Linked DNA regions of Homo sapiens: all the other regions are linked to region 3. Evidence: fine-mapped expression QTL. A gene starts in region 3. Each other region holds a variant in brackets. All regions are shown on one strand. Distances are from middle to middle. Region 1 overlaps LOC101927281 (a long non-coding RNA gene). Region 2 overlaps LOC105376082 (a long non-coding RNA gene). Region 3 holds the start of ANXA1 (annexin A1).

Region 1 (11,173 bases), 140 kb before region 3:
CTCTTCCCTCATGACATCATATTGACAGCTTCTAGTTGGTCATGTTGGTTCCTCCCACCCCCAAAGAAACTAATAAGCACTATAAATCAGGATTTTCTTTCTCTGAAGAAATAGTTGTTAAACATTTACCAGAATACCTCTGTAACCCCTGGCCTACAGCTAAGATATTAAATGGACAATTATTACATAAAACAGATCTGAAACAGGAGGAATAGAGTGAGGGAAAAACTAACAATTACTGAGAACTTATATATTTTCTAATTTAAACCTCTAATAACCCAGAGAAATATGTATGATTATCACTATACCTCAACCAGGACTGGGAAACTGGGAGACTCAAAAGAGATAATGTTTTCAGACTATAAAATAATACATTATGGAATTAAGATTTAAAACCAAGTCTTTCTCTCCCCATGTCTTTGTTCTTTCCATGTATTACATTTCCAAAAGCCGAATTCTTTAGTACTTGAAACTACTTAAGGAAAACTACTTAAGGGATACAAGTCTCTAAATTTACTTTGGAAAAATATCAGATTCAGAAATGTTTAAAATGTTTTTAATATTGATTAATAAAGTGATCATTTACAGATGCCAAATGCATGCTTTCTTTGTTATTCATATTATAATTTAAAAGAAAAAAAAAGAAAGCTCTGAATATAATATTCAATTGTAGGTTCCCTATATCTGCTTTCCTTTTCTTTTTTTAAATTCATATTAGCACCACGAACATCCAGAAAATGAACTGATTTGAGATTCTGACATATATAAGTGATGTTGAAACATGGCTCAAAAATTTCACAATTCAGAGAAATGTAGCCCTTGGCAGAAATAAATATTTAAGAAAGAATACAGAAGTTAGAAGAATACAGTCAAACCACAGAATCTTAATACAATAACAAAAACTAGAGAGACCAAAATGAAGCCATTGGTTACGGCAATGTAACTTTCATATCTCTACCTTAAATCCATCATAAAATACCTGTTGAAAACTAAGATAGGGTCAGAAAGAAATACTTCCTTTCTTTTAAAGTGTAAAATATTAATAACTTGGCAGCTACATATGAAGGAAGATGTCCACACAGTGTTTAGCATATTTCATGGAGTTCACTTGACCCACCAAGTTGGAACTTCAGAGTGTTATTAGCAGAATAACAACAAAATTCAATATTTTCAAACACTGTGATGGGTTCCAGTAGAGAGTAGAAATAGGAAACTATTATTTAAAATCTTTTATTTTCTTCAAAATGTAACAGTATTAGATGGAATGGAAAAAAAAGTCCTAAGTTATAAAATTCTTTTATAAAAGAACAATTCTAACTTTCCCTATCTGCCGGTGAAATGATCTCAAAGAAGACTGACCTATAACATAAATGAATGGAGTTACTAAAATGATATTGAAAAAGTATAGTCCTCAGTGATAGGAAAGTATAGTCTATCATTCATAAGCTGAAAGAATAATACCCTTAGCAACGTCAGAGCAAGCCAGGCAACAGGTAAAGGTCTGTTTAATGGGAAATCCCAACTGTGTAATATAAACTATTGGTCAGATGGCAAACTGATCTGGAAAAAAGTTATTTTCATGCTACTCTTCAGATTAATTAAATGCTGAAGAATATTAAAGCAGATAAGCTTGCTGGCATCTGTAAGTGGCAAAAGAATAAAAATCCTGGGCCAATATCCCAGTTTTAGGCATTGCTGCACTTAACATCCATTCTTCAACTCCTCAATAGCTTTGCTGTACAAAAGGGTGTAATAATTCTGTGTTGTCAAAGAATGATTCTTCTCATCTGAACAAATTTGCTGATATCTCAGAGTACATTTATAAATATCTTATTCTTTCTGATTCTTAAAACATTTAATATTCAAACAAGCTCAATTTAGCCAGGAAAAACTTGTACAGGCCAAATATTTTTTTAAAACCACTCAGCATATGGAAAATGAATTTGAGAGAGAGGGTGACAGTTGCTGTGTTTGTAAATTTATCAGCAGCATACAACACAATAAACTATCTAAACCTATGTGCCAAGTTCTCTGATGTGATAAATGACAATCATTTAGTAGAGTCCACCTGAAGATTTTTTTTAAACCAAGAATAAGGCAATAACTTGCATCATCAGTGAAGAAAAAAATGTATGGCAATGTACAGTCTTTCTTTTCTCATTTTTCTTTCATTTATTTATTCATTTATTCCTTTTTTTGTTTTATCTCTCCTTTCATCTCTTATTTTTCTTTATACTTTAAGTCTGAAATAATAGCACATTAAAAGCAGAATGTAGAGGCTTATTTACATAGATCTGCATTTTGGGGAAAAGTTTTGCTACAAAATCAACAAATCATGCAAATCATACATACATATTTTCCCTATATTATTTGCTAGAATCAGGATCTAGGTTATAATTAAAGAAAAAAAAAAGGGGGGGGCGGGCAGGAGGCTCACGCCTGTAATCCCAGCACTTTGGGAGGTCAAGGCGGGCGAATAACGAGGTCAGGAGATCGAGACCATCCTGGCTAACACGGTGAAACCCCGTCTCTACTAAAAATACAAATAATTAGCCAGACGTGGTGGTGGGCGCCTGTAGTCTCAGCTACTCGGGAGGCTGAGGCAGGAGAATGGCCTGAACCCAGGAGGCAGAGCTTGCAGTGAGCCGAGATCGCACCACTGCACTCCAGCCTGGGTGACAGAGCAAGAAAAAAAAAAGACCTCTCAAAAAAAAAAAAAGACCTCAGTAGAGATCATTGAATTGAGTCACTGACAAATCAGCTGGAAACTTAACCTCTCTTAGGACCAAATGTTAATCCTATAATGCCCTCTTGCCTCTGGTTATAACACACTGTTTGGTGAGTTGTTTTAATCCAATGTCAAATCAGTTTAATAAGATGGAATTCTCAAGACAGAGATAATCTAGCATTTACAGGGACCCATGACATTTTTGTTTTTTGCACATGTCCATGGTAGTAGAGGATGGCTTGCAGTGTGTGAGCATAAATTGCAGACACCAAGAGAATATCCTATGTTTTAAAGTGTCTGAAATGGTCTGTTCTTTCTTTACTCCTCAAGGGACAATCTTAAATGCCACCCTTATGCCATATTAGTACAATCACTGCAAAGACTTTTTTTTAGTAGAAGAAATTTACAGACATCAAACTGATAAAGATTTGCTGCAATTCAATTCAATTATTGGCCCAAAAAATAGTCTTAAAACAGTATGCTATTGAATTATTAGAGCAATAATTAAATAACCCCAGATTTTCAATTTTAACACAAATTTTGAAATGCAATTGATGAATTTTTCTTTATGTCACACAATTAACTGTTTCATTAGTTTTGTAACTTTTATGGGGGAGAAAGGCAGAAAATGAGGGGGAAGAAGAATTAAAGCATCATTTGAACATACAAATGGACTTCATGGAATATTCTGAGAGTCCAGAAAGCAAGAACCATGGATTCAAAAAGCCCTCTGCCACAGGAAGGAAAATAGCACTTATCTCGAAGAAGTGAAGTATTTGCAATGCAGAAGCTGAAACAAGATTTCTCCTTTGTCCAACTGCTGGGGTCTCTGGGTCACAGATGGTTGGTGCCAACCAAATATCTATGCGCTATTCTGTATTTCTCACTGCCCCTTCCCCTCTACTATTTAATTTAAAACTATCTAACTACTGCAAGACAACAATGTGTCTTCCAGGCTGGAGCAATTAGAAACTAGTGTGCTTTGTCTACCTACCTCTTTTTTCTCAATAGTAACCTTAGAGTGTTTCATTTTTCCACAAGATAAAGAAGGGCTGCTGAACCATATCAGACTCTAAGCAGGCAGAAAGATACATGTGTATTGGGTTAAGGCACTGAGATTTGTTTTTTGTTTTTTGTTTTTTCTTGCCCCATCTTAGGCTAGCCTAGCCTGATAAATACAGCCTGAATATTTTGAAACAGCTGACACTAATCAGCCAACAAATTTTGATATTTAAAAACTATGGCTTTATTTTCTATAACTTGATTTTTAATAGATTAATGTTATGTTCAAGTTTCTTCCCATCATACTAGACATGTGAGAAACTTTGTCTTTCTTGACTTTGATTACCACTCCATCTACTAGTATTAGGTTGGCACAAAAGTAATCGCGGTTTTTGCCATTGCTTTTAGTTACTTCTACATTACTTTTAATGGCAAAAACTGCAATTGCTTTTGCACCAGCCTAATACTTCTGTCTACCCCTATTCAAGGTCTCTATCAAAGTTACTTGGGGTTATAGAGGGTAAAGGACACTTAGGCTTCGAGTCTTTTATCACCCTATCACAATATCCAACCTCAAAGCCATCATATTCTTTTAGGTCCAGATATCCCATCACTGTTAATTTATTTGTTTGGCCACATTTGGCTCTTCCTCACAGGTAGCTTCTGGACCTCCTGCCACAGCTGTCAGTCATTTGCATACGCCTCTTCTCCCTGCCTCTCCTCCCTCTATTTCTGACTAGGAAAAATCCTTGTCCTTTTATGACTTTGATGGAATCACATTGTCTATTTCCCAAATCCTCTCCTTATTCCACATAAGACTTAAGATTTTGTAAACAAAGATCAAGCCACCTGCTTGAATTTGGGGAATGGCAAAAGGTAGAAATAGCAGCTATGGTCGGCGGAGAGAGGAAGGTGACATGGATTAGGATTTCTGAAAATGTTCTATTGCTGCACAATTTATGATTTCTTTCTTTTTCCTTGTTTTTTAGCGGATATTTATATGTTCAATGCATATATGGCATGGCTTCAGGCATGACATGTCTTTTGAGTATTATTTCTCACCCATGCCTTTCACCAGCTTATAATCTAGCCAAAATAATTATCTCATTGTTTCATAGAAATGCCTTCCAAAAATCACCTCCACATTGACTCGTGTTTCCCCACTTACATCTTGAATGTAGCTATATTCTAAGGCCCAACTAAAGGCCGTTATCTCCTAAAGACTTTTCTGTTGGTAAAAGCAACCCATTTTTGAACAGAGCACTTTGTGTTTTAAGTGTGTGCCAAGTGAGTGACCCCAAGCACTTACTAATCAACCAGTCAGTCCCAAAAGGTGGGTAATGAATATCTGCCCCC[A/G]TGGCACTCAATAAACAGGGCTTTAGTGTTTGGACAGTTCCTACACTATATGAGCATTCAGTAAATAGCAGTCATTAATATGATGATGTTAATAATACCAACTAATATGCTTTACGGTATTTATCTCTCAAATTTTATTGTAGTTAGATTTCATCTTCTGAGCTTCCTCTTGTAGAATTTATACTGTTTTGTTTCGTTTCGTTTTGTTTTTTTGAGATGGAGTTTTGCTCTTATCGCCCAGGCTGGAGTGCGGTGGTGCAGTCTTGGTTCACTGCAACCTCCACCTCCCAAGTGCAAGTGATTCTCCTGCCTCAGCCTCCCAAGTAGCTGGGACTACAGGTGCCTGCCACCACGCCTGGCTAATTTTTGTAGTTTTAGTAGAGATGGGGTTTCACCATGTTGGCCAGGCTGGTCTCGAACTCCTGACCTCAGGGATCCACCCACCTCAGCCTCCCAAAGTGCTGGGATTACAGGTGTGAGCCATCACACCCAGCCAGAATTTATACTCTTTAGGTTTAGATAGACAGATTCTGCCATGACTGTTAACATAGCAATCCATAAATGATGTTTTATTGAATAAATGAATCAATGAGTGAATGAATCAAGAGGATAATTCAATGATGGGGTTAAGCTATGTACTACATTGTGATTTGAAGTAATAGAAATTAGGTCTCTGTCCAGTCCATTGCTCCTGTGAGGTAGCCCCTTCTTTAAAGCATGACTGGCCACCAAAATATTGCATCTTCAATCACTGCATAATTTCATTTGCAACAGAATCTACATTTTTTTTTTGTGAGACCGCCCATCTGACCCTGAGGTATTCAATCTCCATATGCTCTGTGGTATAGGACTGGTCACTGTGAAAGATCTAAGGCTCACAGATGCCCTTCACCTCATTCTGTGAATCCCCTAATATGACCCCAGCAGTCATTTCTTCTCTTACTCCCAAGAACCTTGGCTATCTATAAAGCTCTCAAACTAGCCCCCTACAAGTACGCATATATTTGCAAACTGTCTTCTAAATAGTTTCCTCCTCTTCTGGTTCTATTAGAAACATGACCGTCCACTGAGAAAAATAGCTTTAAAAACTCTTTCAGAGTATTAATTTTTCCTTACTTATACCCCATATAAAACAGGGAGATAATAGAAATATCATTTTATTGCAGTGACCATTTAACACTGGGATGCTTAAAATAAAAGGGGGTACTAAGTATTGTACCAGGCAGAAGGCATTAAACTGACTTTCTCTAGGCATTCATCCACCATTGCAACTTCTAAACTATTTCTCTCCTTCAGCCTTCAACGATTTCAGTTTCTTTGGTGTATGCATCATATTTATGTGTATGTGCGGGCATATTTATATGTATATCATATTTTTACCATCCTTTACCTCTCCTATTTTTTCCTCCTTGAAACTCCCAGTCATTCCCCCACAACGTAATTCATCAAATATTCCATTACTCCTGTCATAATTGCCACACCCTGAATTTCAAGTTATTTGATATTCTTATCTCTATTGATCCTTTTCCTCCATTCCACCTTAACTATCCACTCACATGATCAAAAATTAGACCTAGAATTCATCAATACCACACATTAGCTATAAACATGGACTTTAAACAACCTATTACTTTTTATTCTTTCAGATCACTTACTCTAATATTGCTACTTTAAAAACTATCTTTGTGAGAATTAAAATCCACTGATCACTTCTTCAATATCCATTACCCTGTTCACGTTTGTACTTCCCTTCTTATCTGCACCAGCTCCATGGTTTAGCATTATATCCATTTCCTTGCAAACACACACAACCTCCTTGCCTTTCTTTTTCTTACTGTACATATTTGAAAAATTCCCAACTCAAATTAAATTATGTAAATCTTACTCTGCATCTGTACTCAAGATACTAAATATAACCCTAGAAAACTGAACAATTCTGCTGACTGGTCACCTTAAAATTTATAGCTGAAAATCTCAAATGGACAACCCAATATTTTACAGTCCTACAATAAATCTTTGGTAATTCACACTCTTTATTATGATTATTTCATACTCTCTCCTCTCCTCAAATCTCTCATAATTCTATAACTGACCTTCAGGCAATAACTAAATCTCATAAGGCAAATCTACCCAATATCTCCTTTTTTTCTTTACCAATTACCCTAACCTACCTAACCACATATTTTTCCTTAAGTTAAAATGGAAAAATCCTGCTGACATCTTTAATGCACTATTTTTATTATTATACTTTCTTTTTCTAAATATTGTTAGGTTTTTACCTTATATTCCTAGACACCTCCCAATTTCAGTTGCTAGATTCTTGACTTTTGCACCAGGTATTTATTTGTTTGTTTATTTGTTTGCTTATTTTATTTGTTTATAGACAGGGTCTCATTCTGTCACCCAGGCTGGAGTGCAGTGGCATCCTTATGACTCACTGTAGCCTCAACCTCCTGGGCTCAAGTGATCCTCCCACATCAGCCTCACTAGTAGCTGAGACTACAGGTGCACACCACCACACCTGGCTGTGCACCAGATTTTAAAATATTGAAACACCCATGAGATCTCTTTTTCTGCCTTCTTCTCCACCTACAACTTTCTCCTAAGTTGTCTAATTCAGTCTCATGGTTTCAAATACTACACTTTGAGGACTTTGAAAATTTTATCTCTAATATCTCTCTTTGCTCCAGATTCATACCCATCTCCATATATCACCATATTCATTTTGCATTAATATCATTGAAAACACACTAAGCCAAACAGTATTTACTCTTCTCACCCACCTTGTGTACATTTATATACCACTGCTCTCAAGTCTTCTTCACTGCCATTGAGTCACCTCCCAACCAGTTACTCAACCAGTTATTCAAACTTAGAATCATCCTTGATTATTTTCTTCACACTCTACTTTTCTCCCACCCACCAATAATTCTGTCTCTTTTGTCTTTAAAACATAACGCTTCTCTGACTATATCTCATTATTTCAACCATAAACTCTTGCCCAAAATATAAAAACAAGTTTTCACCTGGTCATTCTCATTATGTTCAACACTCTGTCCATTCCAATGACATCCAGAGTTATTTTTTCCAAGTGCAATTTGGATCTTTTCATTCACCAGGACAAAGACAAGTCTATCCTTCCTATTGCAATTAAATTAAAATTCAAACTCCTCTCACACCTACCTTGCTTACTCTATTTCCCTACACATACCATCTGAGTTACCATGTCCTATCCAAAATGGCAATATTTCTTTCAACTTAGAAGCCAAACTCTTTCCCATATGTCATTATTTTCTCTTCATGTACAATTCTCTATAATTTCCTTTCATAGCTACGTATTTTTCATCATTCAGGTCTCAATTCAAATGTTACCACTTAGAGAGAGAGGCCCTCCCTGACCATCAACTTCTCCCTGTTCACTATCACATTTTCATATTTTGTTTTCTTCATTTAACTTATTAATGTGTTGCTTATCACATGCTTATTTGTTTACCTGTTTATTGCCTTGTTTTTTGTTGTTGTTGTTTTTGTTTTTCGAGACAGAGTCTTGCTCTGTCGCCCAGGCTGGAGTGCAGTGGTACGATCTCAGCTCACTGCAACCTCTGCCTCCTGGGTTCAAGCGATTCTCCTGCCTCAACTTCCCCAGTAGCTGGGACTACAGGCGTTCGCCACCACGCCCAGCTAATTTTTGTATTTTTAGTAGAGACGGGGTTTCACCATATTGGCCAGGATGGTCTTGAACTCCTGACCTCAGGTGATACACCCATCTCGGCCTTGCGAAGTGCTGGGATTACAGGCATGAGCCACCGCACCCAGCCCATTTTTGTATCTTCTATACCTAAAAGAATGTGTGTGATATAGGCAGTACTTTAGAAACTGTTTTTGATATCAACATTTTGTTAACTTTCTGTGAATAATGGTTTCAATTGAAATGTAAGAAAGCTATACTCAAAATAACAACTCTAACAAGAGTGACAACAACAACAACAAAATCCCCTCAATATTCAGACAAGAGAACATGTGGGGAAAGGTTTGAGCTTTTAAGTTAGAATTTTCCTCAATTGAAAACAAATGTAAAAGTAGAAAATGAAAAAACAAATAATATCTAGAAGGCTTATGTATTTTATAGGCATAGGGATCCATGGACAAAGAATTCAGTGTCTCTAATCTTCATCTCTTACCTTCCAGGCATTTAACAAACAGTGTTGTTGTATATATTTTTTGTCAGGTACTGTTCTAGTTGATGAAGTTAAACCGTAGATATAACAGACACAAACCCCTGTCTTTGTGGAACTTCCACTCTTCTTTTTTATTTTTATTTATTTATTTTTTTCAAGATGGGGAGTCTCACTCTGTTGCCCAGGCAGGTTGAAGTGCAGTGTCGCGGTCTCGGCTGCACTCCGTCTCCCAGGATCAAGCAATTCTCCTACCTCAACCTCCTGAGTATTTGGGACTGCAGGCACACACCCCCAGGCCCAGCTAATTTTTTTGTATTTTTTTGTTTGTTTGTTTTTGAGATGGAGTCTCGTTCTGTCACCCAGGCTGGAGTGCAATGGCGTGATCTTGGCTCACTGCAACCTTCACCTCTCGGGTTCAAGTGATGCTCCTGCCTCAGCCTCCTGAGTAGCTGGGACTATATGCGCTCACTACCAGGCCCAGCTAATTCTTGTATTTTTAGTACAGATGGGATTTCACCATGTTGGCCAGGATGGTCTCAATCCCCTGACCTCGTGATCCACCCGCCTAGGCCTCCCAAAGTTCACACTACTTTTGAATATTGTCTGTGGCTGACCAGAATTTAACTTCCTTGACATGAGAAACCTCATCTATTGTGTACACAGCTACATCTCCAGCAACTGGCACAAAATAAGTGCTCAATAAAATTTACTAAAGGTTAAATACACGTTGTTCCAACATGACAATAAAAGAAAGCATATAGACTGCCTAACACAGGGCTTGGTATATATTGTAAATTGACTACACATTGTGATTAAGCTGAATAATAGTGAAACACTCTGTACCGTGTCTTACCTCCTCATCAACTGAATGCAAAATACAACTGAATTTTTTGAGATACGCTATTTCTTTTGCCCTAAAATTATGTCAGTGTCATTAAAATACATTTCTACAACATAAATATGTGAAAATGCTGTTAAAAGATTTTCACAGCTTGCTCTCTAGCAGTATTACTACTGCCTACTTCTACCCACACCTGCCCAAATATCACAGCAGGCCACTTTTAATTAATGCCCAGGGTTAAATGTCAGGTGCAACATCTCACTAATCTGTTATTTAGAGCAGTTGAGACCATGGAACAAATGAACCTCTGCCTTTAGCAGCTCATAAGAAATGCATCCTATACCTCCCCAGAATGGGATGGCTTGGTTCTTTGCCCCCATAAACTGAACCTACTGAGTGACAAATCAGAACTGATGACTTCAAAGTTGGCTAAGTCACTGGCTTTATAGCAGCAAGCACCACAGTGCACATAAAAGAAAGAACTGTTCCCAGACATTACCTACAGTAAAATCCTCTCTGAGTTCTTTTCCGGAAAGAAAGAAAGAAGCAACAAAAAGGATTAACCTAGTTGCATAAAGAGCAGTAAAGGACTCTGGCAATGCAGTTCGCGCTCGTAGGTTCGCATCACCAGTGAACAGAAGGCTTGCTTTACCGCTCCCTCAGGAGCACGTCTCTCATTGAGTCCACATGCTGTGAGTCCAAGGCACTGTTTCTCTCGCTATATTTGGCTGACTGGTTATTTTACTTTCTTTTTGCTCTACTCATCTTATTTTGTATCCCCCTGTGAGGTGAAAACAATCCAGATAGAACTAGACTATCATACAGGACTCGTTACTTAATTTTCTGTTTCTGAATAATTCATAAAGAAAATCTTATCAACTTGCCTTTCCTGTGAGGTTGCCACACATCCAGTTTCCCTCCACACAGTGTCTTCCTTCTAAAAACAAGATAGCTCTGGGTTCTGATACTCCTCTTGAGGGAGGGATGAATGCCAGGCTTGAGGGCTTATTAACAGAAGACTCTACTTTATCCAGGCTGTTCTGCTCAGAGGCTTGCAAACATCCCACA
Region 2 (11,173 bases), 100 kb before region 3:
TTTCTATTATATTAACTGGGTCTTTTACAGATCAAAATCATTCAAATTTGATATAGTTAAACTTAGCAAGTTTTTAAGTGAATCCTACTTTTAGTGTCAAATCTATAAATTATTTGGCCCCAAATTGTAAAAATTTTCCTCTGTTGTTTTTTCCCCTTAAGAGTTCTATGGTTTAAATTTTACATTTTAGTAGTGGCCTATTTAGCTAATTTTTGCATAAGATATAATAGTTAGGTCCAGGTTTATAATTTTATTTTTGCCTGTAGATATTCAATTGCTCCAGTACTAGCTGTTGAAAAGGCTATATTTCCTGTACTGAACTGCTTTTGCAACTTAGTCAAAAATCATACAGATGTTGTATATATATGTGTGGGTCTATTTTGGATTCTTTACTGTGTTCTATTGAACTATGTGTGTATCCCTCCAGCAATACCACAAAATTTTGATTACTGTAGATACATAATTTTGATATATTTTTTCAATTTATTCTTCTTTTTCAAAATTGTTTTTAGCTATTCTAGTTTCATATAAATTTTAAGATAGTTCTGTCTATATTTACAAAATTATCTCCCTGAAATTTTGATAAGTATTTTAAACCTGTACATCAAATTAGGAAATATTGACAGCTTTATTACATTAAGTCTTCCAATCCGTGAACATGATTTATCTATTCATTTACTTATCTCTTTGATTTCTTCCATCATCACTGTGTTATTTTCAGCAGACTAGCACTATAGATGTTTGGTTAGATTTACTCCTAAGTATTTTTTTCAGTAATTATAAATGGAATTGTAGTATTAATGTTGGTGCCTACGTGGTTATGGCCAGTATATATACATATAATTGATTAATGTATGTTTATCTCGTGTCCTGCAAACTCGATGAATTCATGTATTAGATCTGAAAGATCTTTTATAGACTTCCTTGGAATTTTCTATGTAGACAAATATGTCATCTGCAAATAGAGACAGTTGTACTTACTTCTTTTCTGTATTTACTTCTCTTGCCTGTTTAAAACTTTCACCTTGATGTTAAATAAGAGTGGTGAGAGCAGACATGCTTGTCTTGCTCTGGTCATAGGAGAAATGCATTTGATTTTTCACTATCAAGTATAATATTAGCTGTGGGTTTTCTGTATATGTTCTTTATCAAGTTGAGGAATTTTAACTCTATTCCAATTTTTCTGTGCATTTTTATAACATGGGTATTGAATTTTGTCAAGTGCTATTAGTACATTGATTGATGTGATAATAAGATTGTTCTTGAGCCTCTTATTGAATCAGCTTTATATTCCTTTAACAACCCCACTTGGTCATATTATATAATCTTTTTATATGTTGTTGAAATCTATTTACTAATATTTTGTTAGGAATTTTATGTTTATATTCAGGAAGGATATCTGCCTGTAATTTTATTTCATACTGTATTTGCTTAGTTTTAGAATCAGACTAATAATGGCTGTATTAGTCCATTCTCATGCTACTAACAAAGACATACCCGAGATTGGATAATTTATAAAGGAAAGAGGTTTAATGAACTAGCAGTTCCATGTGGCGGGGGAGGCCTCACAATCATGGCAGAAAATGAAGGAAGAGTAAAGAGCTTTGTCTTACATGGTGGGAGGCAAGAGACATTTGCAGGGGTACTCCCCTTTATAAAACCATCAGATCTTGTGAGACTTTTTCACTATCACAAGAACAGGAAAACCTGCCCCCACAATTCAATTACCTCCCTCCAGGTCCCTCCCATGACACATGAGGATTATTATAATTCAAGGTGAGATTTGGGTGTGGACACAGAGGCAAACCATATCATTCTGCTCCCAGCCGCTCCCAAATCTCATGTCCTCACATTTCAAAACCAATCATGCCTTCCAACAGTCCCCCAAAGTCTCAACTCGTTCCAGCATTAACCCAAAAGTCCAAGTCTCATCTGAGACAAGGCAAGTCCCTTCCACCTATGAGACTGTAAAATCAAAAGCAAGTTAATTACTTCCTAGATAGAATGGAGGTTAAGGCATTGGGTAAATACACCCATTCCAAATGGGAGAAATTGGCCAAAACAAAGGGGCTACAGGCCCCGTGCAAGTCCATAATCCAGGAGGGCAGTCAAACCTTAAAGCTCCAAAATGATCTTCTTTGACTCCATGTCTCACATCCAGGTCACACTGATGCAAGAGGTGGGTTCCCATGGTCTTGGGCAGCTATGCCTCTGTGGCTTTGCAGGGTGCAGCCCCCTTCCTGAATGCTTTCACAGGCTGGCATTGAGTGTCTGTGGCTTTTCTAGGCACACAGTGCAAGCTGTCTGTGGCTTTACCATTCTGGGATCTGGAGGATGGTGGTCCTCTTCTCACAGCTCCACTAGGCAGTGCCCCAGTGGGGACTCTGTGTAGAGGCTGGCACCCAACAGTTCCCTTCTGTACTTCCCAAACAGAGGTTCTCCATGAGGGCTCTGCCCTTGCAGCACCCCTCTGCCTGGACATGCAGGCATTTCAATACATCCTTTGAAATCCAGGCAGAGGTTCTCAAACTTCAATTGTTGACTTCTCTGATTTGCAGGCCCAACACCATGTGTAAGTCACCAAAGCATGGAGCTTGCAACTTCTGAAGCAATGGCCTGAGCTCTATGTTGGCCCCTTTTAGCCACAGATGGGGTGCAGGTCAACAAGTCTCAAGACTGCACAAAGCAGCAAGGCTCTGTGCCCAACCCAAAAAACCATTGTTTCCTCCTAGGCTTCCAGACCTGTGATAGGAGGGGCTGCCATGAACACCTCTGATATGCCCTGGAGACATTTTCCCCATTGTCTTGGCAATTGGCATTTAGCTCCTCAATACTTATGCAAATTTCTGCAGCTGGCTTGAATTTCTCCTCAGAAAATGGGGTTTTCCTTTCTTTCTCGTCTTCAGCCTGCAAATTTTCTGAATGTTTATGCTCTGCTTTCCTTTTAAACATAAGTTCCAATTCCAAACCATATCTTTGGGAATACATAAAACTGAATGCTTTTAACAGTACACAAGTCACATCTTGAGTGTTTCATTGCTTAGAAATTTCTTCCACCAGATGCTCTAAATTATCTCTCTCAAGTTCAAAGTTCCACAAATCTCTAGGGCAGGGGCAAAGTGATACCAGTCTCTTTGCTAAAGCATAACAAGAGTTACCTTTGCTCCAGTTCTCAACAAGTTCCTCATCTCCATCTGAGACCACCTCAGCTTGGAATTTACTGTTCACGTCACTCAACATTTTGGTCAAAGCCATTCAACAAGTCTCCAGAAAGTTCCAAACTTTCCTTCATCTTCCTGTCTTCTGAGCACTCCACGTCTCTAGGAAGTTCCAAATCTACTCACAGTTTTCTATCTTCTTCTGAGCCCTCTAAACTGTTCCAACTTCTGCCTGTTACCCAGTTCCACATTTTCAGGTATCTTTATAGCAACTCCCCACTACCCAGTACCAATTTACTGTATTAGTCCATCCTCATGCTATTAATAAAGGCATACCTGAGACTGGGTGCTTTATAAAGGAAAGAGGTATAATAAACTCACAATTCCACATGGCTCAGGAGGCCTCACAATCATGGCAAAAGATGAAGGAAGAGCAAAAAGATGTCTTACATGGCAGCTGACCTGAGACATGTGCACGGGGATTCTCCTTTATAAAACCATCAGATTTCATGAAACTTATACTGTATCACAAGAACAGCATGGGAAAAACCCACATCCATAACTTAATTACCTCCCACTGGGTCCACACCATGACACATGGGCATTATTGCAATACAAAGTGAGATTTGGGGCCAGGCGTGGTGGCTCATGCCTGTTGTCCCAGCATTTTGGGAGGCCAGGGTGGGCGGATCACGAGGTCAAGAAATCGAGACCATCCTGGCCCACATGGTGAAACCCCATCTTTACTAAAAATACAAAAATTAGCCAGTCGTGGTGGTGGGCACCTGTAGTCCCAGCTACTTGGGAGGTTGAGGCAGGAGAATCGCTTGAACTGGGGAGGTGGAGGTTGCAGTGAGACGAGATTGCACCACTGCACACCAGCCTGGCGACATTGTGAGACTCCAGCTCAAAAAAAAAAAAAAAGTGAGATTTGTGTGTGAACACAGAGCCAAACCACATCAATAGCTTCATAAAATAGATAAGTAAGTGTTCACTCTTCTTTTTTTCTGAAAGATATTGTGTATAATTGATGTTGTTTTAAAAAAATTTGACAGAATTCTCCAATGTAACCCTGTGGGTTTGGAGGTTTCTTTTTGAAAATTATTAATGACAAATTTTGACAATTTTACTGATCTTTTCAAAGAACTAATTCTGTGTTTCATTGATTTTTTCTATTCTGTTTTCCATTTTATTGATTTCTGTTGTTTATTGTTGTCTTCATTCTGCTTACTTTGGGATAATTTTTTTTTCCCTTCCAGGTTCTTGAGGTAGGAGCTTAGGTTATTGGTTTCAAACTTTTCCTCTTTTCCCATGTATGCATTTAGGGCTATAATTTCGCCTTTTAGCACAGTTTTAGCTGT[A/G]TCTCACAAATTTTGTTATATTGTATTTTCATTTTCATTCAATTCAATGAATTTTTAAAATTCTCTTGACTTTTGTTTGACCCCATGCATTATTTATAAATGTGTTCCCAAGTGTTTGGAAACTTTTCTGTAATTTTCCTGTTTTTGATTTGTATTTTAATTCCATTGTATCAGAGAATATATTCTGTATAAATTCAATTGTTCTAAAGTTGTTGGGGTTGGTTTTATGACCCAGAGTATGGTTTATGTTGGTATAGTTATGATTTGAAAATAATGTGTAGTTGGCTGGGTGCGGTGGCTCATGCTTGTAATCCCAGCACTTCGGGAGGCCAAGGCGGTTGGATCACCTGAGGTCAGGAGTTCAAGACCAGCCTGGCCAAAATGGTGAAACCTTGTCTCTACTAAAAATACAAAAATTAGCCAGGGGTGGTGGCAGGTGCCTGTAATCCCAGCTACTCGGGAGACTAAGGTAGGAGAATCGCTTGAACCCGGGAAGTGGAGGTTGCGATGAGCTGAGATCATACCACTGCACTCTAGTCAGGGCAACAGAGTGACAGTCCATCTCAAAAAAAAAAAAAAGAAAAGAAAAGAAAATACAGTGTTCCATAAATGTCAATTAGATTTTATTGGTGGAGCCCTTCTATATCTTTGTTGAAATTCTCTTTACTTATTCCATGAATTGCTGAGAGAGTAGTGTTCATGTCTGTAACTATATCTATGTATGTGTCTATTTATCCTTTCAGTTTGATCAATTTTTGCTTCACCTATTTTGCTGATCTGTCTTTGGTGTACATACATTTAGAATTTCTGTCTTTTTGATGGATTTAAACTTTTCTTGTTATTAATCTCCTTCTCTATCTTTAATAATTTTATTTTCTCCGAAGTCTACTTCATATAATATCAATATAGTCACTCTCTCTTTCCTTTTATTAAAATTTTTGTAAGATATATTTTCAATCCTTTTACTTTCAACAGCTTATATTGTTGTATTTCAAGTTAATTTCTTATGGGCAACATTTAGTTAGGTTGTATTTGTAAATACCCTCTGTTAATCTCTGTCTTTTGATTGCTATGTTTATACCATTTAAATTTAATATAATTACTGATACCTTAGAGTTAAATCAGCTATTTTATTTTTGTTTTCTGTTTGTTCTCTCTGCTTTTCATTTATGTCTTCTTTTTCCTCCCTTTCTGTGGAAACCCACAACACATATAAAACATATAAATCATCATATAAAACATTTTTTACAATTTCCCTTTTCTTTATCTATAGTGTTTTGACTGTGTCTCTTTGTATAGCTGTCTTAGTGGTTGCACTAGTTATTATGTTGTTACATATCTGTAACTTACCACAGTCTACTCGTGTTCTCATTTTACCAGTCCTAGTGAAGTATAGAAAGATTACTTCCCTTTACATCTCTTTATTCTCCCCCATTTATAATTGTCTTAGATATTTCTTCTACAAATATTTAGAACAACATTGGTGTTTTAATTTTTGCTTCAACCATCAAGCATAATTTAGAACACTCAAGAGAAGAGCCTATTGTATTTACCCATATTTTTTGTTTACTGTATTGGTCTTTCTTCCTGATGTCACAAGCTTTATTCTTTTGTTATTTCCTATACTTTTAGAAATTTTATTTAGCCATTCCTGTAGGGTAAATCTCCTGGCAACATATTTTCTTATGTTTCCTTCATCTAGGAATGTGTTGATTTCTCCTTCATTTCTGAAGGATATTTTCTCAAGATATAGAATCTCAATTTTTATTTTTTATGTTGGGATGCCTGTGTTTATATTATTGAGTTTTAAGAGTTCTTTTTATATGCTGGTTACACATCCTCTGTCAGGTATAAGTATATCAAATATTTTCTCATAATCTATGACTTGCTTTTTAAAACAGTCTTACTGGTGATTTTTTGAAGAACAAAGTATTTTGCTTTTGATAAAGTGCTTTTTTTTTATTATTTGGGCTTTCTGTTCAAGGCTAATATATTATTACCACTCTAAGCCCATGAAGATTTTTTTCTCGAATATTTTAAACTTTCCTTTAGGTTTAGATATCATATACCTCATGTATATGAGATGTTTTTTTTAGTGTATGAGTCAAATTGAGGTTGAGGTTCTATATTTTCTTTATTCCTATCTACTTGATTCATCACCATTTGCTAAAGTTGTTTCCCTTTTTCTGTTGAATTGTTTTAGAGCCCATGACAAAAAATAATTTGACTTTGTATGTGTGAGTCTATATCAGGATCCACAATTGTTTTCAATTGATCTATTCATCTATCATATTGCTAGTGTCATACTCTTGATTTCCATAGCTGTATAGTATGTATGGCAGTCAGGTAGGGTAAGTCCTCCAACTGTTCTAAGACATTTTCATTTTGATATATATTTGAACACAGCAAATTGCCTTTTTTTAAAGCCAAATATAATTTTGGTTAGGATTGTGTTGAATATAAAGATAGATTTGTGGCGAATTTACATTTTAATAACTTTAACAATACTGAGCCTTATAATCCATAAATATAGCATCTCTTTTATTTTCTTTCCAATTGCTTATTGTTGTTGGTTAGAAATACAATTTATCTTTGTATATTTTCTTTGCATCCTGTGACATTGCAAAGTTCACTTTTTTATTCTTTATGACTTTTTTTTTACAAAAAACAATAGAAAACAATTTTAATTATGCACATATACATGGAGTCCCACAAAGACATGAGCTCCCTCCTTATAACTTTCTAGGCATATGTTATATTATCTTCAAATAGAGATTTTATTATTTATTCTTTTCTAAATGTATGCCTTTTTTTTTTTTTTTTTACTTACTACATTAAGAGCTCCAGTACAATGTTGACTAGAAGTGGTAGAAATGCACATCTTTATCTTTTCCTTATTTTGGGATATAATGCTCATTCCTTCTTCATGAGTAAAATATATTTAATGTTGATTTCTCACAGACTTTATTTGCCTAGAAGAAAAAAGTTCTCTTTTGTCCCCAGTTTGTGGAGCGTTTTTATTATGAACAGGTGCTGAATTTTTAAGTGCTTTTCCAGAATCTACTTAATTAAATATAATTTTTCTTCTTTAATGTGTTAATGTGTGAGTTCCACTGTGATTTCCATATAATAAACCAACTTGCCATTCCTGGGATTGCCACTGCCACATGGTCAGGATTATTTAACATCTCTAGATATTGCCAAATCCAATTTGACAATGTTTGGTTATGGGCTTTTGTGTCTATGCTCACAATGAATATTAGTCTTTAATTTTCTTTGCATATAATATCCTTTCCTAGATTTGGTGTCAGAGTTATATTGGCCTCATGAAATGACTTGGAAAGTATCTTCATTCCACTATTCCATGAAAGAGTTTGTGTGATATTGGCAATTTTAGTTTATTAAATGTTTGATAAAATTTCTGATGAGCTACTTTGGATATGAATATTTTTATGGGAATTTATTTAATTACAAATTCTATTTAATCAATAGATGTAAGGCTACTTAAAATTTCTATGTTTGTGGTGAAAGAACATACTGTTTATGATGGTCCCCCATTTATTTCATTAAAAGGTAATTTATGTTCCTTGAAATTTACAATTTTAAGTGTAAAATTTTGGAATTTGACAAACTTCTGTAGTCATATAAACACCATCAAAATCAAGATACAGAGCAAGGGTCATCAAACTATGACTGTGGGCCAAATATTGTCTAAGGGCTGTTTTTGTATGGTCACTCAGCTAAGAATTTTTTTATTTTAATAAAGGGTTGTGAAATAAAAACAAATAAACAAAAGCAAGCAAGAGTATGTAATACAAACTTATATGGCCCTAAAAATATTTATTATCATGTCCGTTACAAGGAAATGTCAGCTGCCACTATAAATTTTTAGCCTTGTGATTGCTTTGAAGCTCAAGAAATGAATTTTTAAATGCTACATATATGCTATAGTTTAAGAGTCAAAATTCATTTGTTCTACATCGTTCTTGTGAGGAGTAAAAAGAATAACTGCCTCCTGGGCTTATAAAGTGTTTCCCAGGAAAGCAGGAAGTTAGGATGGAGAGTTTTTGGTTTTTCAGTCAACTAAGATGGGATTAAATCATTTACTGAGTATGTTTCTTTAGACAAATTGTTTTACCTCTCTGTGCCTTATCTTCTTTGTCAGTATAATAGAAACAAAAATTCCAAACTAAATAGGTTGTTTTGAGATTTAGATGAGATAATATATACAAAGATGTACCTCAATGAAACCTATTTGTCAGATGTTTGCAATTCCCTCTCTACTTCATCACAACTACTAAACAAGGAGTTTACACACACACAGACACACACACACACACACACACATCGTTTTGTAAAAAGGGAGCTGGTGGTTTGAGTTTTTTGTTAGTTTGCTTGTTGAGATGTTTGTTTGCTTTGTTGCCCAGGCCTAGTGCAGTGGTGCCATCTCATTGCAACCTCCTCCTCCTGGGCTCGAGTAATCCTCCCACCTCAGCCTCTAGAGTAGCTGGATCTACAGGCACATGCCACCACACCCGGCAAATTTTTTGTGTCTTCTCTAGAGATGGGGTTTCACCATGTTGCCCAGGCTGGTCTCAAACTCCTGGGCTCAAGGGATCTGCCCACCTCGGCCTCCCAAAGTGCTGGGATTACAGGTGTGAGCCTGCCACCACACCGAGCCTGCTGGTTTTAATGCACAGCTCTACCCTGTGAAACTGGAAATGTATGGCTTTGTGCCAAATTTTCTAATTTGCACAAAAAATATATGTTTAGCTTTTCAGAAACTCTGTCAGGATTCATTAGCTTTCTGCAGAAAAATAGACCTTTGGAGACTAAAAGAAAAGAAAAATAAAGTTTTATGAGACAATCTATTAGTCAAGGTATTGGAGAAAACAGAGAAGATTTTGGAATTATCTTTAGCTGTCATTTACATTTTCCTGAGCCTTAAATCTGAGTTTCTCTAATAATCATAAGCCCGATATATTTTGTTTTAAAAATAAAACAAGAAAAAACTCAAATTATACCAAATCTGTGCTCACAGCCAGGATATATCCTTTTGGACTATAGTCTGTTTTAACTCACTGATGCAGAATGTTTTGGCACAGGAAATATTTAATCTAAAAAGTAGGGCCTTTCACAAGAACGCCTCTTGTAAACAGGGAGACCAACTGGGCATTAATGTGAATATTGTTGTTGGCAAGATCTTTTGACCTGATGGATAGAGGTGACATATACATTCTGTGTCTTTCAGCAGGAACACCCCTTGGAGCAATAACACCCAAATACCTGAAATGTGAAGATGACAAGCATGAGTATCCTCTCCTTTTGTGCCTGAATTTCCTGCTTTAATCAGAAAAAAATACTTTTAAAAAGTGCAGGCAATGGTGAGGTTAATTTCTTGTTTAAAATATTTTAATTATCACACTGCAATGATGGAAATAAATCTGTTCACTCTAGCAAGTATATAACATTATCACAAAAAGCCAAAGGAAAAGGAAATGCGTAAGAGAGAAAGGGGATGAGAGAGAAGCAGGACACAAAAATTACAGTGCAGGGAACAAGAGCAAAACGAAAAAATACCACACTAGCAGTTAAACTGACCCCAGAGGTAGATATTCACATTCACTCTGAGTTAACTGTTTTCTGTCTTCAGAGTTCACAGTGCAAGATCATGCTAAAAGACTAACCAAGAAGGAGTGGAGGGAAGATTTGAAGTCCAGGTGACTTGAGACCAAGTTCTGATTGGAGAACTTAGGTGTCCGTAGCCAAGTTATTTAAACTTTTCTGCTCCTCAGTTCCAACTTTCTCAAAATGAGTAGATAACGATTACTGTATCTCACCTGAATATTATGAAAAGTCTGTACGATAAAATATGATGATGGTTATACAATGATAATGTAAACTTCTTAATAATACAAATGTTAGTAACTGTTATTTACATGTATTCAATAGTCAACTTTGGAGTAATCACCCTATTGATTCAGCACACACTGAATTCCACAACAAAGCAAATTATTTACACTCTGCATGCCCTAATTTTTAAATAAAATATTGTGGGTTTTTGTATTATTACAACTTTTCACAATAAAATTTCTGCTTCACATAATTTATTGATCAAAGTTCTAACTCACCTGCAATTCAGCATATTCTTCTATCCCTTGCTAACTCCTAGAGTTTGACATATTTTACAGGATTAATTCTTCTCATAGGAATACTACAAAAGAGCTACCTAATAAGATGTTTTAAAAATTCTAATTTGAAGCTAAATAGATAAAGTTTTAAGAATATCAGCTTTGTGAATTTTCTTATGGGTTTAAAAGTATAATTTCATGCCAAAGTTTGGTCAATGGAACAATTTTTCTTTCTCTCACACAATTTTTCCTCCTCTCCCCCAATCCACCAAAGACCTGAATTTCAAGTATTTTTTTCCCATTGACTTGCTGGCAGAAATGAACACAGAAATCAGTAAATTATTAAGTGAAGTTGCAGAAAACATCTTGCTCTTTTGGTATAGCATATCAAAGAAAAAAATCTGGGATCCTGAATTTCATGCAGCAGAAGGCAACGTTGTCTTTGTAAACTATAGTTGTGTGTAGGTGTATTTGATAGAGTTGTTTGGTTATAATTTCATAAAATAGAGAACAGCACTTGGAC
Region 3 (11,173 bases):
CCTGGGTTCAAGCAATTCTCCTGCCTCAGCCTCCTGAGTAGCTGGGATTACAGGCACCAGCCACCACGCCCGGCTAATTTTTGTATTTTTAGTAGAGACAGGTTTTCACCATGTTGGCTAGGCTGATTTTGAACTCATGACCCCAAGTGATCTGCCCGCCTCGGCCTCCCAAAGTGCTGGAATTACAGGTGTGAGCTACCACTCCCAGCCAATGATTACATTTATAAGGTAAAATAACTTGTGCCAATCTGTACAAGTGAATTCAGATTTAAAATTTTAATTGTAAAAAGATATCCAGGTGATATTTCTCCCTGAATAATTTAGTTTCCTTTTCTATTTCTTGATATAAAAGTACTCAGCATTGAAGTAATTGCTATCTTCACATTTCTTCCTATTTGAGCTGTCTAAATAGTAGTCCTACATATTTTCCCACCCAACACAAAAAACCCAGAAAAGAATTATTTTATACTGGATTTTTTTGTTGTAGCAGGAAGCCTAGAGGTGCAATTGTAACATGCATGTTCTTTTGGCAAACTCTATCTTAAAGGAAATTTCTTGAATTGCTATCATGACTTGGCAATATTTTTATTTAATGAGACATATATTTTTAAGATCTTAAGTATATTGAAAATTAATGTGTTCTCTGTTTTGGCCACACACACACAAAATGCCATCACAGATCCTTTTAGTCTGGGGATGTTTTTCAGAGGCCTTGCTCAAGGTCTACACTGATCTGTCTATCTACACCATTCTGTTTCACCCCTCTAGAGACTACTCTCATGAATGTTTGTGAGAGAGGTTGGGAGGACAATCTTGGCAGTTTTAAATTCTTGATATGAAGATAAATGACTCATGAGGCATAAACTGATTCCATAAACTGATTCCTCAACAGCATGTTCAGACAAACTCTTTCCATTTTCACCTGCTAAAAAGTAACTGGAGTTGCAAGTAATAACACTGAATGCATGAAGAAAATAATATCCAAAGCAGAAATCATCCCCACTTAATTCGCATGGGATTGCTCTTATTACTATTCTGTCATCTGTGAGAAGAACCAATACTTTTTCCATTCATTTAAAGCAGCCTGTTTCCTAAATATAATTGATAGACTTAAAATTGCTTCCTGATAAAGTAACAACCCGCAATTTTGCACAAGGTTTTAGTTCCCATTACAGTCTAGTTTCATGCAATTGCGGTTGCCACATGGAGTTTCATATTCCACCTTCTTAATTGGCACACCCAATACTTTAAAAGCAATTCTAGCAGCTTCAGGCACTCAAAATTTCCATTTTCATCATTTCATCCAAGGCTTTGATAAGGAAGAATCATCAAAATGAGTGTTAAAATTCATCACTTGGCAAAGTACTACTCCATCACTTATAAAAACATGTTTTTATTATTTATTTATTTTATTTATTTATTTATTTATTTATATTATTTATTATTATTATTTATTTATTATTATTATTATTATTATTCCATTCTTTTCAATTAGCAAATAAAAACTTCAAAAGAAAGCAAAAGAAAGACTAAAGATATTGTCCAGTCTAATATTAAAGGTGTCTCTGACAACTTCAAAATAAACGTTATAAAAACTTTACTGTACTGTTTTTTTTTTACTTCTAAAAAATACTTGAATAATGTCCATTTAAAAAAAAAGCCAGAGAAAGCCCAGGAAAAGGTATATTAATTACATAACACAAGATAACAAAAATAAGTTGTTTAAGTCACTTATTTGAAAGAGAGAGCATCCCTAGAGGAGACAGCTTTGTGATTTGTATCTTCTAAGTTCCTACATTCTAGCCTGAAGTATTTGGATAGACTAAAAGCATAATCTAGGAAAGAAAAGCAACCAATAGAGAATTTTCTTCAAGAAATCAATTAGAGAAAAACGGAATCTGAATTCAGCCAAATTCACCACCAGCTCTTAGCAAAGATTAAAGACAGGAGCATCAAGGCAGGATATAAGAAATTGCTCTAAAGGAAACAGATTTTATCACATACAGCTGGTTAAGGGCTCAAAGCCAACTGCACGTATTAACTGAACTTCTGAATAATTATAATACAACTAACAAATACCAAATATATATTTTTTTATATATTGGCCAAATTCTATCCTTAAGCCGTTCTGACTCTTCAATACCTACACTCTGCATGAAAACCTGCCTAAGCCAATGAGTTCATGAAAGGTTTTCTTTTTTCTATCTTTTTGTTTGTAGTGTATAAAGCTTGCAATAGATTTTAAAGAGCCTGTTCTATCAACTTATAGATTTCAACTAACTCAATACAGATTTCAACTAACCAAAGATAAGCTCTAAAACTAAGTTTATTTCAGTACTTAGCATGAGCTCATTGACGGTGAAATTGGCCATTTATACATAGGCAAATCTATAAGGAAATTAACAATATTTCACATTTCTTCTAATTAATGGTCTTTTTGTGAACATGCACTGCCTACTAATGTCAGCTTATCTATGATTTGAATGTATAGCTTTCTAAAGCGTAGCAATTTTTTTGCATATTTATGTGTCCTAAGAGAGTCCCCCCGCTTCATTTTTCCATCTCTCAGCCTCATGAAAGGCTACCTCTATCTAGAATTTGTGACAGAGGAAGCTGAGTTTTGTGGTTGATTGTATCTTCCTGGTTACAATCTAGAACTATCAGAGTTTTGCAATGATAGTAACAGCAATGACTAACCCTTGCTTGGAATAATAGCCTTTAATCATTATCCTCAGTTTCTATCTGGGAAAACTGAGTGCTATTTTCAAGCAGTCTTCCTGCTAGTAGTGGCAAGAATGGAGACATAAATCCATCCCTTTTGATTCCAAAGTGTTATATATTTTGGCTGTGCATGGTGGCTCACACCTGCAATCCCAGCAATTTAGGAGGCCAAGGTGGGCAGATTACTTGAGGCCAGGAGTTCAAGACCAGCCTGGCCAGCATGGCGAAACCCCGTCTCTACCAAAAGTACAAAAATCAGCCAGGCATGGTGGTGTGCACCTGTAGTCCCATCTACTCAGAAGGCTGAGGCAGGAGAATCACTTGAACCCAGGAAGAGGCGGAGGCTGCAGTGAGCCGAGATTGTACCACTACACTCCATCCTGGGCGACATAACAAGACTCTGTCGGGAAGAAAGAAAGAAAAAGAAAAGAAAAGAAAAAAGAAAAGAAAGAGAAGGGAGGGAGGGAATTAGTGACCAAAAAGAAAATGACATGATCAGTGTTCTTTTAATCACTCACACCTGAGAATCAAATTCATTAACAGTCAACTTGCGCAGACCGTAGCAGGTTTCACCCCAGCCTTAGGGAGTTTATTTTTAAATGCACGGCCTTGTGCATAGTTTTTCCTCGAATATGTATTTCACAAGTCCTTCCCACACCTTCCCTGGTGAGAGAAAGCAATTAAGACTACACAATGGCATGACTTACAGAAAGCAATTTATGAAAGGTAGCCTCACTAATGTTTTGCTTCCAGGCTTTTCGATAGGGTGTTCTTCTTGCCTGGAATGCTTGTTCCTCCTCCACATTCACTTCCCTTTGCCTAACTAATTGCTACTTCTAAGTGACTCATCAGCATTGATCTCATCACGTTCTTCAGAAACCCTTCATTAGTTCCTCAGCACTGGATTCGGTGACCTTCCATGCTCTCCCAAAGCATCCTGACTTCACCCCTACACCAGCCCCACCTTTCTGTATTATCACTTTCCATTGGCTTGTTTATATTCCCCAGGAGCAGGCCATGAGGCCCGTGCTAACATACAAATAATAATATTCATTATGTATGTACTTCCAATCCCTAGCAAAATGCCTGGAATTTAGGATGTTAATAAGTATTATTGAATGAATATCATGTATCATTGCTAATATTTTAAAAAACATATCTACACTAATTTAATGAACATTTTCTACCCACAACTATAGGATATAAAATACAAATTGAAGTATACTGGTTCTTGATTATCTGGCGATCTGACCTCAAGAAAAACATTTAGCTTCTCCAGAGGGTCTTCGTTTATAAAATAAGAATGTTGAAGTAATTATCATCTAAGATCCATTTACAGCTCTGAAGTGCCAATCTTAAATATTACTTCAAGTAGATGAAGATGAAGAAAATTAGCATAATGAAGGAAGGCATTATATAAATTGGATTGTTCTGAGCTTCCTGATGAAATTCTGTCCAATTTTAAAGGAAAAGGAAATAGTTGACTTCAAAAAACTGTTTATAGTTTATCATTGAAAAATAATAGGTCTGCTGGTTTACCTCTGATTTGAAATGTCGTAAATTAATAGGTCTAGAGAGAGCTAACGTCATATTCAGAAATCAACCTTTGCAGACCTTCTGGTTGAAAAAGTATTTAATAAGCATGAAACTCTGGCTGGTTCCTTAATAATATTATTATTAACTATTTTGTCAACATCTGTTAAATGTTGGCTATGTGCTGGATGTGGTTGAGCCTGGAGCTAGGGTGTTACTGTCACTTTTGGGGAAGAGGCCATTTCAGAATTATGAAACCAACATTTTACCACATTTGAGTCATTTGCAATGTGCATTCTCTTACAGCTACCAAAATACTCCTGTGGAAAGAGGGCAACATTGCTTTCTCAAAGTTTTTACAATCTTTTAGATATAACCAAGGCAAGAAAAATTCCATCCTTGTTAATTAGCTAGCAGTGAACATAAGAAATCAGAACATTTAATAAATATTTAAAATGAACGAACAGAAAAATTCTTGAAGGAACATGTTTAAGAAAAAAATAGCCAGATACATGATTTGTAATCTCACTTTTACAAATATATCCAACACTAGTAAATACTCTTCTTTAGTTTTGCTTTGTGCTTTTCTAAGGAGTTTTATGGCCATTAGCTCATGCAACAATCAAGTGGAATAGCTGTTGGAGGGCCTCACTGACATTCCCCTAGGATAATGTATCTGACACTACCCAGAAAGTATTTCCCTTCTTTTTAGGTTTTCCAGCCAGCACTTGAAAAGACTGTATATGACACAGAGCCTACAAGAAAAGGAATGTGGCCACACCCTCTTTAAATGAAAAAAGTAATAAGCGGACCTTCTTATTTTAAATAGCATAAGCAAATATAACATATATTTTTAAATGTTTATTACAAAGAGCATGATTAGCACTTTGAGGTCTGAATCTATCTTGTTTTCCTTACAAAAGAAGAAAATAAATTATGAAAGTCCTACTATTTTGAAACAGTTCCCTGCAGCCCACTCCTATCACTTTTGTTCTTGCCCCCAAAAAGCAGCCCCCATCACGATTTCTCTGTAAAACACACAGCTCTTGGGAAGAAATATTTCAAGGGGAAGGAAAGGAAAAACACATTCTTTTAAGGCTACCAGAGGGAAAGCACATTCTTCCCTTCTTTCTCATGGTAACTTACCAAGAGTACAATGAGCCAGTATTAAGCAAACTTATCTTATTTTTACTTGTATTTGTTAACTAAGTAGAACAAAAATATTGTAATTTGTGATTCCTAAAATATAAATATCCAATGTAATTCTACAGAAAGATTTATGAATGACTTATCATGTTAAATGCAACTAACCATAAATCCTGTAGAAGCAGTAACATTTAACATAGTGATGAGAAAAGTTTTCAAAACAACCAAAACTAACTAAAAGGAAAACCAAGACTTACCTTTATCTCTACCTTCTTGCAAAGAACTAAAGAGAAATTCTTCTCTGAAGATTTCACACTGGCAGTGGAGACTTGGGCTTCTGATTTTATAGGATTTTAAAGGAAGCCACACCTAGCAACCAGAAGTTAGTAATTGGCTGCCTTCTGTTTGAAGTACATGGCTCAGCTATGTCCAAAAACAAAGTGAAACAAGTCTTGCAAAACTACTCACTAAACCAATTCAACTGGCATTACAAAGGAAAAGAAATGGAAGGGCTGATTTTTCCTCCCTCTTTATTTTGCACTTTTATTTCCAGATGGGATATTTATTTTGCACTTTTATTTTCAGAGTATACATCTGCCCCAATCCTAATACCAGTGATTGGCACACTTTTGTAGTTAAATAGGTTGTAGACTAAAAAGTATGTTACCTTCAAAACTAAACAAACCAACAAACAAAATATTACATTTGAATTCCACCTCCATCACTTATTATTCTGTGACTTTAGGGACATACTTAATTTTTCTGAACCTGTTTTTACTTTTGTTTTGTTGTCTTTTTCCCCCGCTTTTTGTGGAGAATGGGGTCTCGTTATATTGCCCAGGCAGGTCTCAAACTCCTGGGCTCAGGCTATCCTCCTGCCTCTGTCTCCCTAAGAGTTGGAATCACAGGCGTGAGCCACCATGCCTAGCTGTTTTTACTTTTGTATATAGGAGCATTATCTAAGTTGTCTACCCACTAGAATTCTTGTGACAATGGAGAAATAACATATATTTGTAAATTTTAACATTACACAGTGCCGAATAATTTTCTATTTATATTTTTCTTGCCTTAAAAAATAAACGACTTTTGTTCCTAGATATAGCTTGTTGTTATAAATAAGAAATATAGAAGTAATAAAGTTCCAGATTGGCTCAAAATTTTGAACAAAGGTAATGCCAAAAATTTGATCATTATGACATTCAATAAAAGCATTGACATCAGAAGGCCTATCTACATTAATTCTTTTAAATAGAGTCAGTTACATAGAACTATATATATAAACTGTAATATAGATCAGTTATATATACATTTTGATACACATCTTTGACATTGTAGACTAGTTGAACACCAAAACAAGGAACTAGACCTATAAAATGAAAGGATTAATGGAGCAGCAACTATTACAGAACACATTCCATAAGAAATTTCCCACCCAATGGAGGAAAATTGGTTCTGGTAACTTCCATAGTGGTTCATTTTCATTCTTCTTTAAACCCTACAAAGTATTATATGATGTTTCCATTAAAGTGCACAGGTGTAAAATCTCACAGCATTATGGCTCAATTTATGCTGCATTTAGTGGTTTGTTCTTTTTCCTCTTTTCCTCATAGATATTTCACATAAAAAACATGAAGTTTAGGAAGTTAATGAAAATACTTTCTAAAGATTGGCAGTATTTTATAATACATTCTAAGTGCTCGATGCCAATATCAATGAAGTCAACATATCCTGAAGTAGGATGATCATCTAATCTAAATATTTAAGAAAATGTCAATATATGTTTTTACTATCATATGTGTAAGTTGAAAATTAATTAGTTACCTGCTAACAAGTTAAGTTAATTGATATTATTGCAAATTGATCTTGACAGATGTAGACTAACTTTCTAATACCATATTTATGTCATCAGGTGAGAAGGAATAAGATGATTATACAAAATCTGGTTTTCTTTTTTTCTTTAATTTGCGTTTGTATTCCTAACTCTGGTAATGGAACTATTGGAACATTCCTGCACAGTGATGCTCTTGTGAAATGAAGAAAAAATTCCACTTACTTTTTATAAAATATAACAACCTAGAAAACATGTATAGTCTCATTTTGCTTTGTTGCTGCTATTACCAGTGCCATAAACTGAATGGAATTATTTTATATGTTTGGATTTGTAATACATAGGCAAACCTAAAATAGCAACAATAAATATGATAATTGTAGCAGAATTAAGAAAAAAAAAGTGAAAAGAATGTTTTTCCAAAATTAACTTCCAGCTGTAACACTAAAGGCAAGTGAAACTCCCAAACATAACACAAAAAGAAAGCCACTAATCATGTAGGTATATTGCTGTGAATAATCTGTCAGAATCTTTTTCTCCGCATAATAATAATGTCGAGTAGATTTATGGAAATAAAAGAACAAGTAAAATATGTTATCATTAACAGTGAGGGGATAATCATGGGTTAAATGCTTTCTGTGGGTGAAATGCCACATACTCCAGAGAAATGACTCACCACTCTTGCTGTTTCTAGAAGATGATGATTCATCGGCTCCACTTACTTTACAAACAGAGAAAATAAAGAAAGAGAAGGAAAGAAAAAAGACAGTTAAAATCAATCTCTATATGTTACGTTTTTCACAGCATGTTTATTTTCACTCATTTGGTTTAGAATCTGATAGTGAAGAGGAAACAAAACAAAACAAGGAGAGGAAATATGGAGTCTCTCACATACATCTCATTGTGCATAAGACTCTTGCAAAATATCTGATCTTAGTAAGCTGTCCCCTCATCCTTTACATTTAACTCTATCTAAGCATTACTTGTTATATGGAAGAAAGAGTATATTCTGAATGATCAAGAACAGCATTTCACAGATATTCCAAAATCTCCCCACAGCTTCCTCATACCCCCTATCCACAGCCAACAAAAATCATTATTTTAGTGTGTGTTTCTCATGTGTCCCCAGGTCAAAGCATTTTGAGGGCTAACATTCTAAATGTTTTCCCTTTGCCTCTAAACATGGCAAATAATTATCACACACACACTGAGTTATTGAGATTATTATTATTATTATTCCTCAGTTATTCACATGAATTAAAGACAGAATTTTTTTTCAAATTTTACTCTTTCAGGTTAATGAAGTAGTCATGTGGGTAGCTAGAGCCAAAGGGAGGTACCTTTGTTGGACTTCACTTAGGGAAAAAGATCTTACCTCCCTGCCTCTCTATATTTCCTTTTGTGGGTGGAAAATCTTAGAGAAGATAAAAACTCAAATTTGGTGGTGGCTTAGTATCTATTACTGTGTGACTTAGGAAAAGTCAGCGAATGACTTGGTGATTCAACTAGTATACTTCCAACATCAGGATCATGCTAGGATTAGTAATTTTGTATTGCACAAGTTATTTTGTTTAATCCCTGAGTATAGTATCCATATCCCTCTCTATATTATTCGAAAGTAAGAGAATAAGACCTTGTCACATTCGCTATAATAACAAATTTTACTTCAATAATTTTCAAGAAGTTTTGCAGAAGGAAAATGAAGATATGTGTTAAGGTCAAAAGGTCAAACTCTGCTTTCTAGGTTCCAGCTGTTTTAAAATAGTCTGGCAGTTTCTTACAAAGATAAACAGAGTCTTACAATGCAATCCAGCAATTGTGCTCCTAGATATTTACCCAAATGAGTTAGGAAACATGTTTACACAAAAACCTGCACATGTATGCTTATAGCAGTTTATTCATAATTACCAGAAATTGGAAGCAGCTGAGATATTTTTCAAGAGGTAAGTGAATACATGGACTATAGTACGTTTATGTAATGGACTATTACTCAATGATAAAAAGAAATGCTTTTAAACCAGGAAAAGAAATGAAGGAATCATAAATGAGTATCGCTAAGTAAAGGAAGACAGTATGAAAAGGCTATGTCTGTTTCATTCCAATGAGATGCATTCTGGAGAAGGCAAACTATAGAGAAAGTAAAAAGATCAATGGTTGCCAGGAGTTGGTGGCAGGGAGGAGTAATAAATAAGAGACTTTTAGGGAAGTGGGCTGGGCATGGTGGCTCACACCTGTAATCCCAGCACTTTGGGAGGCCGAGGCGGCGGATCATCAGGTCAGGAGTTCAAGACCAGCCTGACCAACATGATGAAACCCCATCTACTAAAATACAAAAAAAAATTAGCTGGGCGTGGTGGTGCACGCCTGTGGTCCCAGCTACTCAGAAGGCTGAGGCAGGAGAATCACTTGAACCTGGGAAGCAGAGGTTAAAGTGAGCCAAGATTGCCCCATTGTATTCCAGCCTAGGCAACAGAGCGAGACTATGTCTCAAAAAAAAAAAAAAAAAAAAGAGATTTTTAGGGAAGTGAAACTATTCTGTATGATACTGTAATGGTGTATGCATACATTATGGATTTGGCAAAACACATAGAAATGTATAACATGAAGAGTAGGCCCTAATGTAAACTATGGCAATTAGCTAATAATAATGTATCAATATTGGTTCACCAATATAACAAATGGACCACATCAATCCAAAATATTAGTAACAGGGGAAACTAAGAGCAGCGGGAAATTGAGTATATGAGAATTCTCTGTACTTTCTGCTCAATTTTTCTGTAAACCTAAAATTTCTCTAAAAACTAGAGTCTATTATGAAAAAAAGGAACTTCATTTGATTATATACTTTCTAAGATATACCAGGACCATATAATTTCTAATATAATAATTCAAAAATTCTTATGTAATCAGAACACAAAAAATACAGCAAGTCTTCACATAATCATTGCCAACTCCATGGATTTATGACACGAACCAAAGATTAATATCCTTAAATTTAATAATGACTTTTTTTCAATTTCTATTTTAACTCAATAGGTTTAAAAAGTGATTTAAAACAATTCTTTAAACTAGCATAGTTAAACAAAAACTGGATCTTTATACTATCTTAAAAAATAAAAAAACATGGATCTGGATGGATCTGGAATTAAAATGGGAGTAAATATATAAAACAAACAATAAACTTTACAAGATATTCTGTAAATATCTTGTAGCTAAATTTGTAATGAAAGTTTTCCAGACCAAGCCACAATAAATGTTTGCTTTGCATTGGTTGGGGTGATTTTGGTTAACTTTATCATAAATAGATTATTATCCAATAGAAAAATGAAATTTTCTTTCAAAGAGAAACTTGATAAATCCTAAATCTCATTTTCTCATTTACAAGTCAAATATGGTTATACTTTGTTAAAAGTAACTTGCAAAAGATCACTATTCAGGATAATCTATTCTGAGAATAACATTTATAATCTCTGTGGTGGGAGACTAATCTGTGGCTTAAAACCTGTTATTATAAAAGAAATGAGAGGTGTTTTTAATATAGGCAAATAAAAATCCTCAAGTGGAAAAAATAAGCAAAATCAGTAGATTCTTACAAAAACTTCATATTTCCTTACATGCACTAACAAAGTGTTACTATCTACAGTGTACCAGGAGCTCTTATCAATTGTAAAGCAAGCAATCCAAACAACAAAAATGGATGAAACCTGAGTACAGTCAAATGCCTCCGAGTCAGCAGATATGCAAATCCAAATTGCCAAACAAACAGTAAAAGTTGTTCAAATTTACACTGGTGAGGGAAATACTGTTTAAAGAAATGACAGTATATGGATATATACCCATCAGGGTGGTGATGACCTCAAATTTTCTGTAACACCTTTACCAGCAATAAATGGTATTAGAAAAGGATACACTCATATATTGCTGGTGCTTGTTTGCTTGTTGGTT

What was found.
Region 1: its variant is fine-mapped to the expression of ANXA1 in whole blood (TOPMed, PIP above 0.99).
Region 2: its variant is fine-mapped to the expression of ANXA1 in whole blood (INTERVAL, PIP 0.95).

Annotation. Positions count from the first base shown.
Region 1 is chr9:73,284,146-73,295,318 of GRCh38, reverse strand. The region is part of intron 1 of LOC101927281 (a long non-coding RNA gene); the gene reads right to left. Among named protein-coding and RNA genes, the nearest start is that of ANXA1, 140 kb to the right of the region's middle. The variant A/G (reference allele first, on the strand shown) is at 5,087.
Region 2 is chr9:73,246,407-73,257,579 of GRCh38, reverse strand. It overlaps LOC105376082 (a long non-coding RNA gene), which reads left to right. Exons shown (of 5, transcript XR_929931.2): 2 at 9,771-9,903. Among named protein-coding and RNA genes, the nearest start is that of ANXA1, 100 kb to the right of the region's middle. The variant A/G (reference allele first, on the strand shown) is at 4,520.
Region 3 is chr9:73,146,409-73,157,581 of GRCh38, reverse strand. ANXA1 (annexin A1) reads right to left here and starts at 5,717. Exons shown (of 13, transcript NM_000700.3): 1 at 5,658-5,717. RefSeq lists a silencer at 3,435-3,729 and a cis regulatory region at 7,759-8,009.